Regions from separate parts of the Homo sapiens genome. Here region 1 is linked to region 2. The links come from fine-mapping of genetic effects on gene expression. Tissue or cell type: monocytes. Region 2 holds a variant in brackets; the other region holds the start of a gene. All regions are shown on one strand. Distances are from middle to middle.

Region 1 (8,000 bases), 42 kb after region 2:
GAGGGCGCCTCTGAGAAGGGCTCAGACGACACTGCTGGGGCTGCTGTCATCTGGGGGGACAGGGGAGAGGAGTGGCACACAGAAAGCAGGCGGCACAGGCGCCCTCTCCTCCCTCAGTTTCCCTCCAGAGCTCCAGCTCCTGGGTGCAGCTCTCACCTGCCCGTCCACCTGAGGGAATGTCACCCACTTCAGATCAGCAGTTTCCAATTTTGTGTTCAGCAGGGTCTCTGAGACAGACAGAGAGACAGAGTCAGTGCCTGGGGTGGGGGAGGGAGGTCAGGAAGACCAGATCCCTGGGAACCGAGGCAGGTGGATCCTCTTAGCTCTGAGCTAGAGGAGTTGGGGGGCCAAGAGGGGAGCAAGCCCTGCCCTCTGCACCCGCCTGATTTCTGGCCTCTTCTGCTAAGTGCCAACCCCACCCCCAACATCTGGTAGGCATGGGGCTCCCTTGGGATACCCCAGATCTAGGCCTCCCTGGAGGAGGGAGGGAGATCAAAATGTACGGGGAGAAGGGGCGGCAGCTCAGAAAGGGTTAAAATGAGAGCTGCGCCCTGGTCCTGACCCCCACGAGCAGAGGCTGCTGGTGTGGGAGGGGAACCTCTTGTCTCAGCCTCCACGTTTCCTCCCCTAAGTCCCAGAATCAGCCTCTCTACCCCACAATTTCATTCCCTGTCCAAGACCCCTCTCTGCTTTCAGACCAAACACCCCGTCCTTCCCTCCTTGAAGGGAGCGCTCCGTGCCTGGGGCATAGCCCTGGCCCCCATCCCAGTACCTCCCTCCCCACGAGTGCCCTGATCAGGAAGCACTGGAGGTCGGGATGCTAGGGTTCCCAGGCTCCCGCCGAGGCCTCACATCTGGATTTGGTTATGGGAAGGCAGAGGGGAGGAGATTCTGGGGGGCGGTATGAATGGGAGGGGTGAACACACCTGGCTTGGCTCGGATCATCGGGGGAGGGGACAGGCACTGGAGGAAGGGGGGGGATTAGGAAAAACTGCACAGCCCCTGGCAGTGGAGAGTGGAGGAGGGAGGGTACAGGAATCCCCTCGGGGGCCGGCAATGTGGGGGGCATTGGGCGCTGGGAAGGGTGGAGAGGGGAGCCAGAACACCTGGCTCCCACCCCATGGGAGCTGCAGGAGAGAAGAGAAAGAGGGTGGGTGAGGCAGCCTCTTCCTGGGGACCAAATGATGTCCTCCAGCTAGGGGTCAGATGGGAAGCCAGCCAGCCTGAGGTGAGAGGCGCAAGGTCCCCATGGGTGGCAAGAGACAGCCCTGCTCACTGGGGACAGGATGCCCGGGTTCTGGGAAGGGGGTGGATAGAGGCTGCCGTCTCCACCCTCCATTGTTCCAGCCGGGATAGTGTTTTCCTGTCTCCAATTTACACACTGTCTCTGCCTCGGGCTGTCCGCAGCCCAGAGCAAGCGCAGGCTCCCTTTCTGCGTCCCAGCTCAGCTGCAGCCACGCTTTGATCTGTCAGTTCGCATGTCTCTCACCTATCTCTCCTCCACTCTCTGTCCACCTCCGTTTCTCTTTCTGACAGTCACTATCTCTCCTTCGCTTTCGGCCTCCACTTCTCGCTGTTCCTCGCGGCACAGGGCCTTGGATAAACTACTTAACCTTAACTAAGCCCCAGCCTCCTCATCTGAAAAATGGGGGCAATAATAGCACCACCCTTAGCGTTGCTGGATGGGTGAAATTAATATTTGTAAGGCGCTCAGCACAGGCCTGGTGCTTGGAAACACTCAGGTAATAGGTGTCACAATCACCATTTCCTCTTTGCGTCTTTCCTTCTCACCACACCTCGTCCTCGTGGTTTTTCCACCCCTTTGGCCTTCCTCTTCCCCTCGTTCATGGTTTTTGTTCCCCCTTCTCCGTTCTCTGAGCTGGGCAAGCCTCCCCTCACTCCCAACCCCACACCTAGCCTTTGATCCCCAGCCCAGGGCAGTCCTGCCCAGCCAGGGGGAGAGGGTTTTTCTAACGCCGCTGAATCCTTCCCTTTGGGAGTCCCTCATAGCCTACCGCCCCATAACCACTTTCATACCAGACAGAGAAAGGGGGGTGTTGGCAGCTCACTGAAAGGACATTAGGGACACAGGAGAGTTTCTAGGGCTCTTGGCTCCCCCTTTAGGGGACCAGGAGGGACAGCGATCCATGGCCAAAGAAATGCTTGGAGAGACCAGGAGGTGGGAGATAGACTGGGTTAGTTAGGGCGATGTGGGGGCTGTGTAGGTCAGTTTCTACCTGGGGGCTGTGTAGGTCAGTTTCTACCCGCTCCTAGGTCTCAAGGGAAGCCCGGGACTCACCTGGGGCCGGGGTCTAGACCGCATTTAAAGGGATGGGGTGCAGCCTGTAGAAACCAAGGAGCCACCCTATACCAGGGGCAGGAGCAGTGGGCGGGAGAGCGGTTTGGGGGTTTGCTGTGTGAATGCAAAGGAGGCCATCCTGTTGCAGGAGTGTGGAACTGGAGGATCAAGGTGTGATCGCTAAGGAATTGGCGCTGGGGGTCGTTTTAGGGCCTAGCACGAAAAGTTGTGCCTTGTCTGCTGTTGCTTCTCCAGAAACCTTCCCTCATGTACGGCGGGAGGTGGGACTGGGACAGAAACTTTGCAGATAGTTTTGAATAGTGGGGTAGGGAGGAAAGGAAAGGCAGCCAGGGGCGTATGTAATCAGCAGTGAGAGTTCGGGGAGCCCGGGCAGGGGAATGTCCCGGGTCGTAGCCAGACTCCATCTCTTTCCCAAACAAAAGAAAACTCCACTACCCGTCGGGCGCCTCTTCCCCGCCCCCCTCCCGTTCCAGCACTATCGGTCCGAAGTGTTTGGGACTGCAGTGCCCGGGTAGGGGTAGTCAGAGGCCGGCCCCTCCACTCCGAGGCCCAGATGTTGGGGGGGAGGTCCCAGGAGTGACGGGGTGCGCCCCCCCCCGCAAGGAAACTCACCTTCCAAAGCTGCGGCCAACGAAGCCCAGCAGAGCAGCACCCGGAGCTCCATGGCGCCGCCTCACTCGGGTAGGATCCGAACTGAGTTTGGGGGGCCCTCGCCCCCCCAGGTCTGACTCTCCCTGGGCGGGTGGACGCCGATACTCCGCGCGGGACTCCTCGTCGGGGCCCTCAGCGCGGGCCCATGCGAGCGTGCGGGGCACCGGGCGGCGGCGCCAAGTGTGGCCCCGCGTCTGTGCCGCGCGCGCGGGCGGCGGGCCCGGAGCGTGCTGGCAGTGGCCGCGCCGGGCGGGCGCGCAGCAAGACGTGGCTGGAGTTGGGGTCCCTCCGGGGCCTCGGGGTCCCGCCCCGGGTGGCGGGGGCTGAGCCGGCCGCTCGCGGTCTCCCCCCCTCCCTGGAGTGGCTCTGCTCGCGCCGCCGGGCCGAGTGCTCTCCTCGCGGGCGGGGATGGTGGGAGCCCGAGCGGGGACGGAGCGGGAGGGAGGGAGACTGCGGCGCGGAGCCGGGCGGGCCGGGCCGGGCAGGGGCTGAGCTGCGCTGGAACTGGGCCGGGCGGCGCCGGGCCCGGGAGGGAGGGGCGCGCGGGGGGCGGGGGCAGCTCTCCCAACGCGGGGGCTCCGCGAGTGAGCCCCGGGCGCGCTGATTGGAGCTCACGCTACTGAATAATTCATGAGGGAAGCGGAGAGGGGCACCGAGTGGAGCAGGTCGGGAAGTTGAGAGAAAGTTTGGAGAAGGGGGAGGGGCGGCGGGTGAGGAACCCCGGGACCGCCCAGATGTGCGCCGTGGCGGTGCGCGCTGTCCAGGACCGAGCATGTCGGGGCTGGGGCCCAGGGACCCCCGGGACAGGCCCGAACCCGGCTGGCACCAGGGAGCAGAGAAAACACACACCCAGCAGCAACACGGAGGGCCGCCCAGGCGTGCACGTAAATGTTCACCGCGCACACAAAGCCCGCTCTGACCTTGCTGCGGACTCTAGATGCCGCTCTTGGATGCGCCCACCACCCTCTAGTGGGCGCAGGGACTGCGTTTTGGGGGAAAAGGAAGGAAAAGGGAGTAGAAGCTTTGGAGAATTGACGGCCGCCCAGGGGGCCTCAAGGAGCAATCCCAGTTTGGATAGCCTTGCAGCGAACGTTCACACAGTCACCCCATAAACATTCAGTGTTGGGGACCTACTGTGCGCGCAACCAAGCCCTGAAAAATGTCCAGAGGAGGCGCGCACTAAGCTGCGCTAGGGAGTAGAGAAAAATCGAGGAAACAACGGTAAAGAAAAGGTGGGTGTGGCGGGCGCGGTGGCTCACGCCTGTAGTCCCAGCATTTTGGGAGGCAGAGGCAGGCGGATCATTTGAGGTCAGGAGTTCAAGACCAGCCTGGCCAACATGATGAAACCCCGTCTCTACTAAAAATACAAAAATTAGCTGGGCATGGTGGCGCGCGCCTGTAATCCTAGCTACTCGGGAGGCTGAGGCAGGAGAATTGCTTGAACCGGGACCTAGGAGGCGGAGGTTGCAGTGAGCTGGGAGCTGAGATCGCGCCACTGCACTCCAGCCTGGGCTACAGAGTGAGACGAAATCTCAAAAAAAAAAAAAAAAAAAAAAAAGGTGGGTGTGTCCGAGAGGGTGAGGGGTCCGGCTAGATCTCCAAATCGCCCTTCTCACTCTCACTCTCGTGTTTTGGGGGGGCTTCCCCGCCGCCCGCAGCCATGACCCCTGAGGCTGGGGCTGCGGCTGCGGCTGCTGTCTTTCCTGAGCTGTTTCCTGTCTGGCTCCTGGGGGCCCTCGGGATGGCTGGGAGGGGCCCTTCCTCTCACTGCCAACTCCCCTCACCCTCCCATCAGTTAGCGGGGAGGGTCCAGCACAGCCGTGCTCCTCCCACCAACCCCCTTCTACTTCAGGGAACTTAACAGTATGGGTTACTGGATAGATGGATTGGAGGGGGTGCTGCTCCAGGAGTCAGCCCCTCCAAGGGGCAGAAGGAAAGGACTTAGACTCCCACAGTAATTAGCGGGGACAGATTTTTTTTTTTTTTTTGAGACAGAGTCTCCCTCTATTTCCCAGGCTGGAGTGCAGTGGCGTGATCTGGGCTCACTGCAACCTCCGCCTCCCAGGTTCAAGCGATTCTCCTGCCTCAGCCTCCCGAGTAGCTGGGATTACAGGCACAGGGCACCAACCCCGGCTAGTTTTCGTATTTTTAGTAGAGACAGGGTTTCGCCATGTTGGCCAGGCTGGTCTCGAACTCCTGACCTAAAGTGATCCACCCACCTTGGCCTCCCAAAGTGCTGGGATTACAGACGTTAGCCACCGCGCCCAGCCGGAGGACAGAATCTTGAGGAGCCCAGCAAGAGAGACGTTGGAGCCCAGCAAGAGAGACGTTGGAGTCCAGGATGCTTGGGGGGCTGCCAAGCGCCCTTACGTCCCAGAAAGGACAGCCGGGCCTGTGATAACCTCTTGTCCCGGCTTACTTATCTTCCTGCTGCAAGAGGTGTTCCCCACACCCCTGCCCTTCCTTGCTGTTCTGCCTGGGTCCTGCGCCCGGGTTGGGGGGGGTGGGCCGGTCACCGAGGGCAGGAAACAGCCGGCTTCACTGGAGCCAGGCAGACCAGGCTGGAGCTGGGAATTCCCTCCTCCCTCCCCGATGCAGGCCCAGTCTCCCCTTCTCTTATTCAGCTTCTCCCTCGGGGTTCTCTGCAACCCTCTCCCAAACCCCTGCCCTGCCTTTTGCCACTCTCACTCTGTACCCAGATCCTGTAGCCTCTAAAAGTTATGTCTTCTGGCTGGGGACAGTAGCTCAGGTCTGTAATCTCAGCATTTTGGGAGGCCGAGGCGGGTGGATCACTTGAGCCCAAGAGTTCGAGACCAGCCTAGCCAACATGGTGAAACCCCTCTCTACTAAAAATACAAAAATCAGCTGGGCATCATGGCACACACCTGTAGTCCCAGCTACTAGGGAGGCTGAGGCACGAGAATCGCTTGAACCCGGGAGGCAGAAGTTGCAGTGAGCAGAGATTGCACCACTGCACTCCAGCCTGGGCAACAGAGCCACACTCTGTCTCCAAAAAATATATAAAGTAAATAAATAAGTAAATAAATAAATAGGCTGGGCGCAGTGGCTCACACCTGTAATCCCAGCACTTTGGGAGGCCGAGGCAGGCGGATCACCTGAGGTCAGGAGTTCGAGACCAGCCTGGCCAACATAGTGAAACCCCTTCTCTACTGAAAATACAAAACTTAGCCAGGTGTGGTGGTGCAGGCCTGCAGTCCCAGCTACTCGGGAGGCTGAGACAGGAGAATTGCTTGAACCCTGGGAGGCAGAGGTTGCAGTGAGCTGAAATCGTGCCACTGCACTCCAGCCTGGGCAACAGAGTGAAACTCTGTCTCAAAACATAAATTAATTAAACAATAGAAAACACTCATCTTAGTGGGGCACAGTGACTCATACCTGTAATGCCAGCACTTTTGGAGGCTGAGATGAGAGGATCGTTTCAGTCCAGGAGTTTGAGGGCAGCCTGAACAACATAGCGAGACCCTGTCTACAAAAAAAGAAAGAAAGAAAGAGAGAAAACATTCTATTCCATGTCAGGTCATCAGCCCACACCCCACACCAGGCAGTAATCTATTTTCTACCATCTAGTGTATGCCAGTCAAAGAATGAAAAAATGAAATCTTTACTGAGCATCTACTACGTGCCGAGTGATCACATTGCTAGTTTTCAAGATTTGTAAAACATGGTTCCTGGCCTCAAAGAGAATCTGGTAAAAATTAATATAGTTTTATGTCATCTGGTGAATTACAACCTGGTAGAAAAAAAATCCCATGATTTCCCCTTTACGTGGAGATGGCATCTGAGATTTTCACTTCAATTCTCAGGAACCACCCTTGGTCTATCCTGTGTGTGTGAAGTCATGTCCTCCACCCTTAGACCACCCAGAACCACTTCCCAGGCAAGCAAATTCAGTAGCCACTAAATTACAGAACGTGGGTGAACATTCACGTTACTACCTGAATCCATGCCTGTTCTGCAGACCAAACCAAACTCAGCCCTCCCTTCCTCATTATTAGAGCACTTTGCTGTTCCCTACCCAAAATATTAGGCTGTCACCTTTGTTCCCAGCCCAGAGCAATATACTGCTATCACACGGTGCATTGTCGGTACTTGCGCATAGCATCCACCAACAGCTACTGGAGTTTTCTTTTTCTTTTCTTTTGTATTTTATTTTATTTTATTTTTGGAGACGGCGTTTCACTCTTGTTGCCCAGGCTGGAGTGCAAAGGTGCGATCTCGGCTCACCACAACCTCTGCCTCCTGGGTTCAAGTGATTCTCCCGCCTCAGCCTCCCAGGTAGCTGGGATTACAGGCATATGCCACCACACCGGGCTAATTTTGTATTTTTAGTAGACGCGGGGTTTCTCCATGTTGGTCAGGCTGGTCTGGAACTCCTGACCTAAGGTGATCCACCTGCCTTGGCCTCCCAAAGTGCTGGGATTACAGGCGTGAGCCACTGCACGTGGCTCTTTTTTTTAGAGATAGGGTCTTACTGTATTGCCCAGGCTGGAGTGCAGTGGCACGGTCATGGCTCACTGCAGCCTTGACCTCCTGGGCTCGAGCAATCTTTCCTCAGCCTCCTGAGGAGCTGGGACCCCGCGCGGGGACCATGCCCGGCTAATAAGTTTACTTTTTCTTGTACAGATTGTGACAGTTGTTTTGAGTAATCCTGGAGTTACAGCTTTTCCTATTGTAAGAAATAACAAGCAGCAAATCACCCCTTTCTCCGTAAATTGTTGAACTTCTCATTACTCTTTCCACATCTCAGTCTCCCCTCTTCTGGGCCACCTAACTGTGTCGGGTCCAAAGTTCAGGTTTACCCCAAAGTTCATGAAGTTTAAGCTTCAGCACCTCTCACCTGCCTGGCTTCTTCCACGGCCCTGGTTAATAAGTGCCATAATTTAAACAGTTTTGAAGGTGAGTTTCAGCAGGACAACACTTGAAATGACCTGAAATCTTACAGCTCTGTTACAAAAGGAATTTGATAGAGTTTTCAACATTACCAATAGAGTTGTAAAGCTCAAATAAA
Region 2 (8,000 bases):
CAAAGTTTTCCAGTCCTTTTTGTTTTCATCTTTTGACTTTTTTTTTTTTTGCCATGCAGGACAAAAATTTTTATGGGGTCAAATATATTAATCTTGTTTTATGTCTTCTGCATCTTGAGCAATAGCTATAAATGCTAGCCCCACAGAAGCTACAAAAGAGTTTGCTGATTCTTTGCTCTAGAAATTTTGTTTGTTTGAGACAGAGTCTCACTCTGTGGCCCAGGCTGCAGTGGCACGATCCCGGATCACTGCAACCTCTGCCTCCTGGGTTCAAGCGATTCTCCTGCCTCAGCCTTCCGAGTAGCTGGGATTACAGGCACCCACCACCATGCCTGGATAATTTTTTTGTATTTTTAGTAGAGATGGGGTTTCACCATGTTGGCCAGGCTGGTCTCAAACTCCTGGCCTCAAGTGATCTGCCCGCCTCGTCCTCCCCAAGTGCTGGGGTTACAGGCGTGAGCCACCGTGTCCGGCCTGCTCTAGAACTTTTATGGTTTCATTTTTTTATATTTAAGTGGGTTTTTTTTGTGTGTGTGTGTGTGTGTGTATTTAAGTTTTTGACCCATGAAGATTTATCCTGATGTGTAAAATGAGGTATGAATCAACTTTGTTTTTGTTTTTCTCCAGAAGGCTAGCCAGCTGTTCCAATATTATTAAATGACTAGTCTGTCTTTGCGCAGGGACTGAGATACCACAATTTATCATATACTAAATTCCCATATATATTTGGATCCATATCTGAGCTTTCTCCTCTGTTCTGTCGGTCCATCTGTATTTGCATGTAGCAGTAACACAAAGTCGTAATCACTGAAAATTTAAAATGAGCTTTGGGCTGGGCGCTGTGGCTTACGCCTGTAATCCCAGCACTTTGGGAGGCCGAGGTGGGCGGATCACCTGAGGTCAGGAGTTTGAGACCAGCCTGGCCAACATGGCAAAACCCCATCTCTACTAAAAATACAAAAAATAGCTGGGCGTGCTAGTATGTGCCTGTAATCCCAGCTACTCAGGAGGCTGAGAAAGGAGAATTGCTTGAACCTGGGAGGTGGAGGTTGCAGTGAGCTGAGATTGTGCCATTGCACTCCAGCCAGGGCGGAAAGAGCGAAACTCTATCTCAAAAAAATAAATAAATGAATAAATAAAATAAAACAAAATAAACGACTTATGGAGGGCCATTCACTACTGATGGCTCTTTTTTTTAGGGAGTTCCTGGCTTTTCTGGTTTGCTTATGTCTTCAGCTCAACTTTGAAATCATCTTGTCCTATTAAAAGCACACACATATATAAAATACTTTTGGTGGCTGGGTGTGGTGGCTCATGCCTGTAATCCTAGCACTTTGGGAGGCCAAGGTGGGAGGATCACCTGAGGTCAGGAGTTTGAGACCAGCCTGGCCAACATGGTGAAACCCCATCTCTACTAAAAATACAAAAATTAGCCAGGCATGGTGGCACATGCCTGTAATCCCAGCTACCTGGGAGGCTGAAGTAGGAGAATCTCTGGAACCAGGGAGGCAGAGGCTGCAGTGAGCCAAGATCATTCCTGGGTGTCAGAGAGAGACTCCGTCCCTGCCCGTCCCCCGCAAAAAAAAAAAAAAAAAAAAAAAAAAAAAAATATATATATATATATATATACACATATATATATATACACACATATATATATACATATATATATATGTATATTTTATTGAGATCACATTAAATGTGTACATTCACTGAGGCAGAACTAACATCACCATGTTGCTGAACCTTCTTATCCATGAACATGGTATGCATTTCCATTTGTTCACACTATTTTTGCTTAAGGGCCTTTCTTTAACTCCCCCAACAGAATTAATACCTCCCTGCTCTGTGCCTCCATCATGCCTTGTATGCTCTTGCTGTCAACACACCTACTGATCATACACATCAAGGTCCTGCTGCCGTTGCTGTTTGACCACCGTCCTTCATGCTGGCTTGGGAGAGCCATTCTTGTTCCTTTTTTTTTTTTTTTTTTTGAGACAGTCTCACTCTGTTGCCCAGGCTGGAGTGCAGTGGTGTGATCTTGGCTCAATGCAACCTCTGCCTCCCAGGTTCAAGTGATTCTCCTGCCTCAGCCTCCTGAGTAGCTGGGACTACAGGCGCCCACCACCACGCTTGGCTAATTGTTGTATTTTTAGTAGAGATGGGGTTTCACCATGATGGCCAGGATGGTCTCGATCTCCTGACCTTGTGATCCACCCACCTCAGCCTCCCAAAGTGCTGGGATTACAGGCGTGAGCCACCATGCCCAGCCGCTTTTTCCTTGCTTTCCCCCAAAGCCTGGCACATAACCCATACTCAGTAAATGTTTGCTGAATGAATAACAAAAGAACAAAAAAAGCTCCCCAAGCCTTGTTGGTCATCCACCCATAGCTTGGTTTGTACAGCCCCTGCCCACCTTGGCCCCCTGTGACCCTCTCCACTGACCCACTGTCTCCTTCACCCACAGCTCTGGAATGCCCTGCCTACAGCAGCTACACCAACTGCCTTCCCTCCTGCTCACCCTCCTGCTGGGACCTGGATGGCCGGTGTGAGGGCGCCAAAGTCCCCTCTGCCTGCGCTGAGGGCTGCATTTGTCAGCCCGGCTATGTGCTGAGTGAAGACAAGTGTGTCCCCAGAAGTCAGTGTGGCTGCAAGGATGCCCATGGTGGCTCCATCCCTGTGAGTGGGCATGGGAAATGGGACTGGAGGCAACACAGCTTGAGGGCAGTGCTTTCTCCTTTTCTCTGCCTCTCTCAGCCTGGGATACCCATGACTTACAGCTGGCCCGGGGGTGTGAAGGCTGGTGTGAGTGGCACATTGATCTCCAGCCAGGTCTGGGCTGATGGCACATGGTTTGGGTTTTGGATCTGAGGAATCCAAACAAGCAGCACATGGCATGGTATAGTGGAAAGACCATGGGCTCATTTCAGCCTAACCTAGGATTGAATCCTGATGGTGCCACTGATGAGTCAGATGACCTCTGTTATATCCGTTTCCTCATCTGTAAAATGGGTTCAGTAGTACCTCCTGCACAACATATGTAAGTCACCAAGCACAAACACAGTGCCTTTTTTTTTTTTTTTTTTTTTTGAGACGGAGTCTCCCTCTATTATCCAGCAGGCTAGAGTGCAGTGGCATAATCTCTGCGCACTGCAATCTCTGCCTCCTGGGTTCAAGCCATTCTCCTGCCTCAGTCTCCTGTGTAGCTGGGATTACAGGCAAGCGCCACCACAGCCTGCTAATTTTTGAATTTTTAGTAGAGATTGGGTTTCACCATGTTGGCCAGGCTGGTCTCGAACTCCTGACCTCAAGTGATCTGCCCGCCTTGGCCTCCCAAAGTACTAAGATTACAGGTGTGAGCCACCACACTTGGCCTGCACAGTTGTCTTTTGGATGACCAAATGACACTGTGGCTGCCTCTGGCCAGCATCAATTAAGCCATTTAGATGGTGGGCCAGGCTGCTGGGGCAAGAGGAAGGAGAACTGGCCCTCCCCTCTTCACTCTTTTTTTTTTTTTTCTTGAGACAGAGTCTCGCTCTGTTGCCCAGGCTGGAATGCAGTGGTGCGATCTTGGCTCACTGCAACCTCTGCCTCCTGGGTTCAAGCAATTCTCCTGCCTCAGCCTCTTGAGTAGCTGGGATTACAAGTGTGTGCTACCACACCTGGCTAATTTTTGTATTTTTAGTAGAGACAGGGTTTCACCATGTTGGCTGGGCTCGTCACAAACTCCTGACCTCAGGTGATCCACCCGTCTCGGCCTCCCAAAGTGTTGGGATTACAGGCGTGAGCCGCCGCGCCCAGCCCCCTCCTCACTCTCTTTCTCTTCCTGTAACTTCTACAGCTGGGCAAGAGCTGGGTCTCCAGCGGTTGCACGGAGAAGTGTGTCTGCACGGGAGGAGCCATTCAGTGCGGGGACTTCCGATGCCCCTCTGGGTCCCACTGCCAGCTCACTTCCGACAACAGCAACAGCAATTGTGTCTCAGACAGTAAGGGGAGCGACCGGGGAGGTTGGAGAGGGGAGCACCTGTGGCCAGGGCGGAGGTGGAGGAAGAGGCAGGGTGGGAAGGGGCTTAGCCTGAACCCCAGCACAGTCAGGGGTTGGGGCGGGCGACTGGATCAGGAGGCCTGGCCTCCAGTTTAGCTCTTGCTAACTCTGTGGCCATGTGCCAGGTCCTGATCCCCTCTGGGACCCTCCACCTGCAGGGCAAAAAGAGGGGACTGGTCAAGGAGATCCTCCAAAGTTTTTCTTTT[CTTGT/C]TTGTTTGTTTTTTGAGATAGGGTCTTGCTCTGTTGCCCAGGCTGGAGTGCACTGGCACCATCATATAGCTAGCTGCAACCTCAAATGCCTGCAATCATGTGATCCTCACATCTCAGCCTCCCAAGTAGCTGGGACTACAGGCATGGACCACCACACCCAGCCAATTTTGCTATTTTTTTTCTAGAGATGGGGTCTTGCTATGTTGCCCAAGATGGGCTTGAACTCATGGGCTCATGTGTTCCTCCTGCCTCAGCCTCCTAAAGTGTTGGGATTACAGGCATGAGCCACTGTGCCCGCCCCCTCTAAGGTTTTTAATCAGGCCAGGAGATAGAGAAAATTGAAGATCAAGGATCCAGGGAGGCTGGGCATGGTGGTTCATGCCTGTAATCCCAGTACTTGGGAGGCAGAGGTGGAAGAATCACTTCAGCCCAGGAATTTAACACCAACCTGGCCAACATAGGAAGACCCTGTCCCTACAAAAAATTTTAAAATTTTAAAAAATTAGTTAGGTGTAGTGGCTTGTGCCTGTAGTCCCAGCTACTCAGGAGACTGACGCAGGAGAATTGCTTGAGCTCAGGAGTTTGAGGCTGCAGTGAGCTATGATTGTACCACTGCACTCCAGCCTGGGACACAGAGTGAGATCTTGTCTCAAAAAAATAAAAAAATAAAAATAATAATAAAGGGCCTCTAATTGAATGTCAGTAGGTATTGAAAAAAAAAAGTCTAGGTACCGGGCTTGGTGGCTTATGCCTGTAATCTCAGCACTTTGGACTTTGGGAGGCCAAGGTGGGAGGATTTCTTGAGGCCAGGAGTTCAAGACCAGCCTGGGCAATGTAGTGTGGCCATTTCTAAAAAAAAAAGAAAAAAATTAGCTAGGGGTGGTGGTGCGCACCTAAAGTCCCAGCTACTCAGGAGGATCACTCGAGACCAGGAGGTGGAGGCTGCAGTGAGCTATGATCGTACCACTTGTACTCCAGTCTGGGTGACAGAATAAGACCCTGTCTCAAAAAAAGAAAAAGAAAATTAAAAAAAGAAAAGAAAGGATCCAGGGAGCCTGAGCCTAAGAGGGTGGCCACAGGGGATGCCACCGTGGGGGAGGGACTCTGGGGACTGTCACACCTGGGCAGGGTCCCTTCTCAGTCTTTTGTTTTGTTTTTTGTTTTTTTGAGATGGTGTCTTACTCTGTCTCCCAGGCTGGAGTGCAGTGGCGCGATCTCGGCGCTCACTACAACCTCTGCCTCCCGGGTTCAAGCAATTCTCTTGCCTCAGCCTACCAAGTAGCTGGGATTACAGGCACGCACCACCACACCTGGCTAATTTTTGTATTTTTAGTAGAGACAGGGTTTCACCATGTTGGCCAGGCTGGTCTCAAACTCCTGACCTCAGGTCATCCACCCGCCTTGGCCTCCCAAAGTCCTGGGATTACAGGCGTGAGCCACTGCGCCCGGCCCCTTCTCACTGTCTGACTTCTTGGCAGAGTCTGAACAATGCTCAGTCTATGGCGACCCCCGTTACCTCACATTTGACGGCTTCAGCTACCGCTTGCAAGGCCGCATGACCTATGTTCTGATCAAGACTGTGGACGTACTGCCTGAGGGGGTGGAGCCCCTCCTCGTGGAAGGACGCAACAAGATGGATCCGCCCAGGAGCTCCATCTTCTTGCAGGAAGTGATTACCACCGTCTACGGCTATAAAGTGCAGCTCCAAGCTGGTCTGGAGCTTGTGGTAAGAGCTGGGCCAGGGCCTGGTGGGTGTGGGGAGGCAGCTGGACCAGGTAGGCCACCTGGAGTAGAAGTCAGGGATCCCTGTTCCCTGGGATGTTTGTGGCAGGGGTGGGCTGGTTGTAAAATCAGAGTCAGCAGGACGCAGTGGTTCACGCCTGTAATCTCAGCTACTCAGGAGGCTAAGACGGGAGGATCACTTGAGCCCAGGAGTTCAAGACCAGCCTGGGCAACATAGCAAGACGCAACATCTCTGCAAAAAATTTAAAATGAGCTGGATATGGGGGCGCACACCTGTAGTTCCAGCTATTGGGCAGGCTTAGGCTGGAGGATCACTTGAGCCCAGGAGTTTGAGGCTGCAGTGAGCCAAGATCTTGCCACTGCACTTTAGCCTGGGTGACAGAGAGAAACTGTCTCAAAATCAAAAACAAATTCAGCAACAAGCTCACTTCATGTGGGGAGGCAGCAGAGGCTGGCAAGAAACAAGAGGAAGAGAGGAGGAGGACAGAGCGTGAGGTGTGTGAAGGTCAATCCTGGGCTGAAGAACCAATGGCATCCACTACACCAATGTATTTTTATTTTTTGAGGCAGAGTTTCACTCTGTCGCCCAGGCTGGAGTGCAGTGGCACCATCTAGGCTCACTGCAACCTCCACCTCCCAGGTTCAAGTGATTATCCTGCCTCAACCTCCCTAGTAGCTGGGACTACAGGTGTGCACCACCATGTCTGGCTAATTTTTGTATTTTTAGTAGAGACGTGGTTTCCCCATGTTGGCCAGGCTGGTCTGGAACTCCTGACCTCAAGTGATCCGCCCGACTCGGCCTCCCAAAGTGCTAGAATTACAGGTGTGAGCCACTGTGCCCGGCCTCACTGAGCCAATTTTTTGCAAGGAAGGACTTGGGCTGGGAAGGGGGCGGACCTCACAGAGGTTTCTGCCACGTGAATAGCAAAGCCCATTGGGGTATCTTATTCCACTCTCTGCACGGAGACATATGGAGATGACTGGGAAAAGTGAAGCCCAGCCAGGAAATGGCAGCAGGTCAGGAGGATTCAGCCCTGTCTGTGGCTCCTGTCTTCCCTCTTTAGGTCAACAACCAGAAGATGGCCGTCCCCTACAGGCCAAATGAACACCTGCGGGTCACCCTGTGGGGCCAACGGCTCTACCTGGTCACCGACTTTGAGCTGGTCGTCAGCTTTGGTGGAAGGAAAAATGCAGGTAATGGAGAGAGGGGAAAGAAGAGCAAAAGGGCCATTTCTGGGAAGTGGGAGGGAAAATCCTATTTAAGACAGGCAAATCCTGGTGAGCAGACTCGGCCCGGTAGTGGGGCACCCAGCTTCAGAGGAGGACCAGGAGGAGGTGAGGTGAGACCAGGTGGAGAGCAGAGGGCAGAGTCTTGGCTGGGTGCTGTGGCACTGGCCAGAAATCCCAGCGCTCCGGGAAGCTGAGGTGGGAGGATCGCTTGAGGTCAGAAGCTCAAGACCAGCCTGGGGAACATAGTGAGACCCCCGTCTCTACAAAAAAAATTTTAAAGGCCGTGCACAGTGGCTCACGCCTGTAATCCCAGCACTTTGGGAGGCTGAGGCAGGTGGATCACCTAAGGTCAGGAGTTCAAGACCAGCCTGGCAAACATGGCGAAACCCCATCTCTACTAAAAATACAAAAATTAGCTGGGTGTGGTGGTGGGCGCCTGTAATCCCAGCTACTTGGGATGCTGAGGCAGGAGAATCGCTTGAACGTGGGAGGCGGAGGTTGCAGTGAGCTGAGATCGTGCCACTGCACTCCAGCCTGGGTGACAAGAGCAAAACTCCATCTCAAAAAAAATTTTTTTTTTTTAAATGAGACAGGTGTGATGGTGCATGCCTGTAATCCCAGCTTCTGGAACTGGAGAGGCTGAGACGGGAGGATCGCTTGAGGCCAGGCATTCGAGACCAGCCTGGGCAACATAGCAAGATCCCATCTCTATAAAAAATAAAAATAAAAAATTAGCTGGATGTGGTGGTGCACACCTGTAATCCCAGCTACT

Evidence for each region. PIP is the estimated chance that this variant, and not a neighbour inherited with it, causes the effect.
Region 1: it holds the start of EPHB4, and the variant in region 2 is fine-mapped to the expression of EPHB4 in monocytes (TOPMed, PIP above 0.99).

Annotation. Positions count from the first base shown.
Region 1 is chr7:100,824,047-100,832,046 of GRCh38, forward strand. EPHB4 (EPH receptor B4) reads right to left here and starts at 3,477. Exons shown (of 17, transcript NM_004444.5): 1 at 2,933-3,477; 2 at 157-227. The coding sequence starts at 2,984. It also overlaps a transcript of SLC12A9 not described here. RefSeq lists enhancers at 3,481-4,276, 5,073-5,868.
Region 2 is chr7:100,782,156-100,790,155 of GRCh38, forward strand. ZAN (zonadhesin) reads left to right here. Exons shown (of 48, transcript NM_003386.3): 36 at 2,468-2,679; 37 at 3,842-3,986; 38 at 5,734-5,981; 39 at 7,063-7,192. Among named protein-coding and RNA genes, the nearest start is that of EPHB4, 41 kb to the right of the region's middle. RefSeq lists an enhancer at 2,570-3,069. The variant CTTGT/C (reference allele first, on the strand shown) is at 4,252.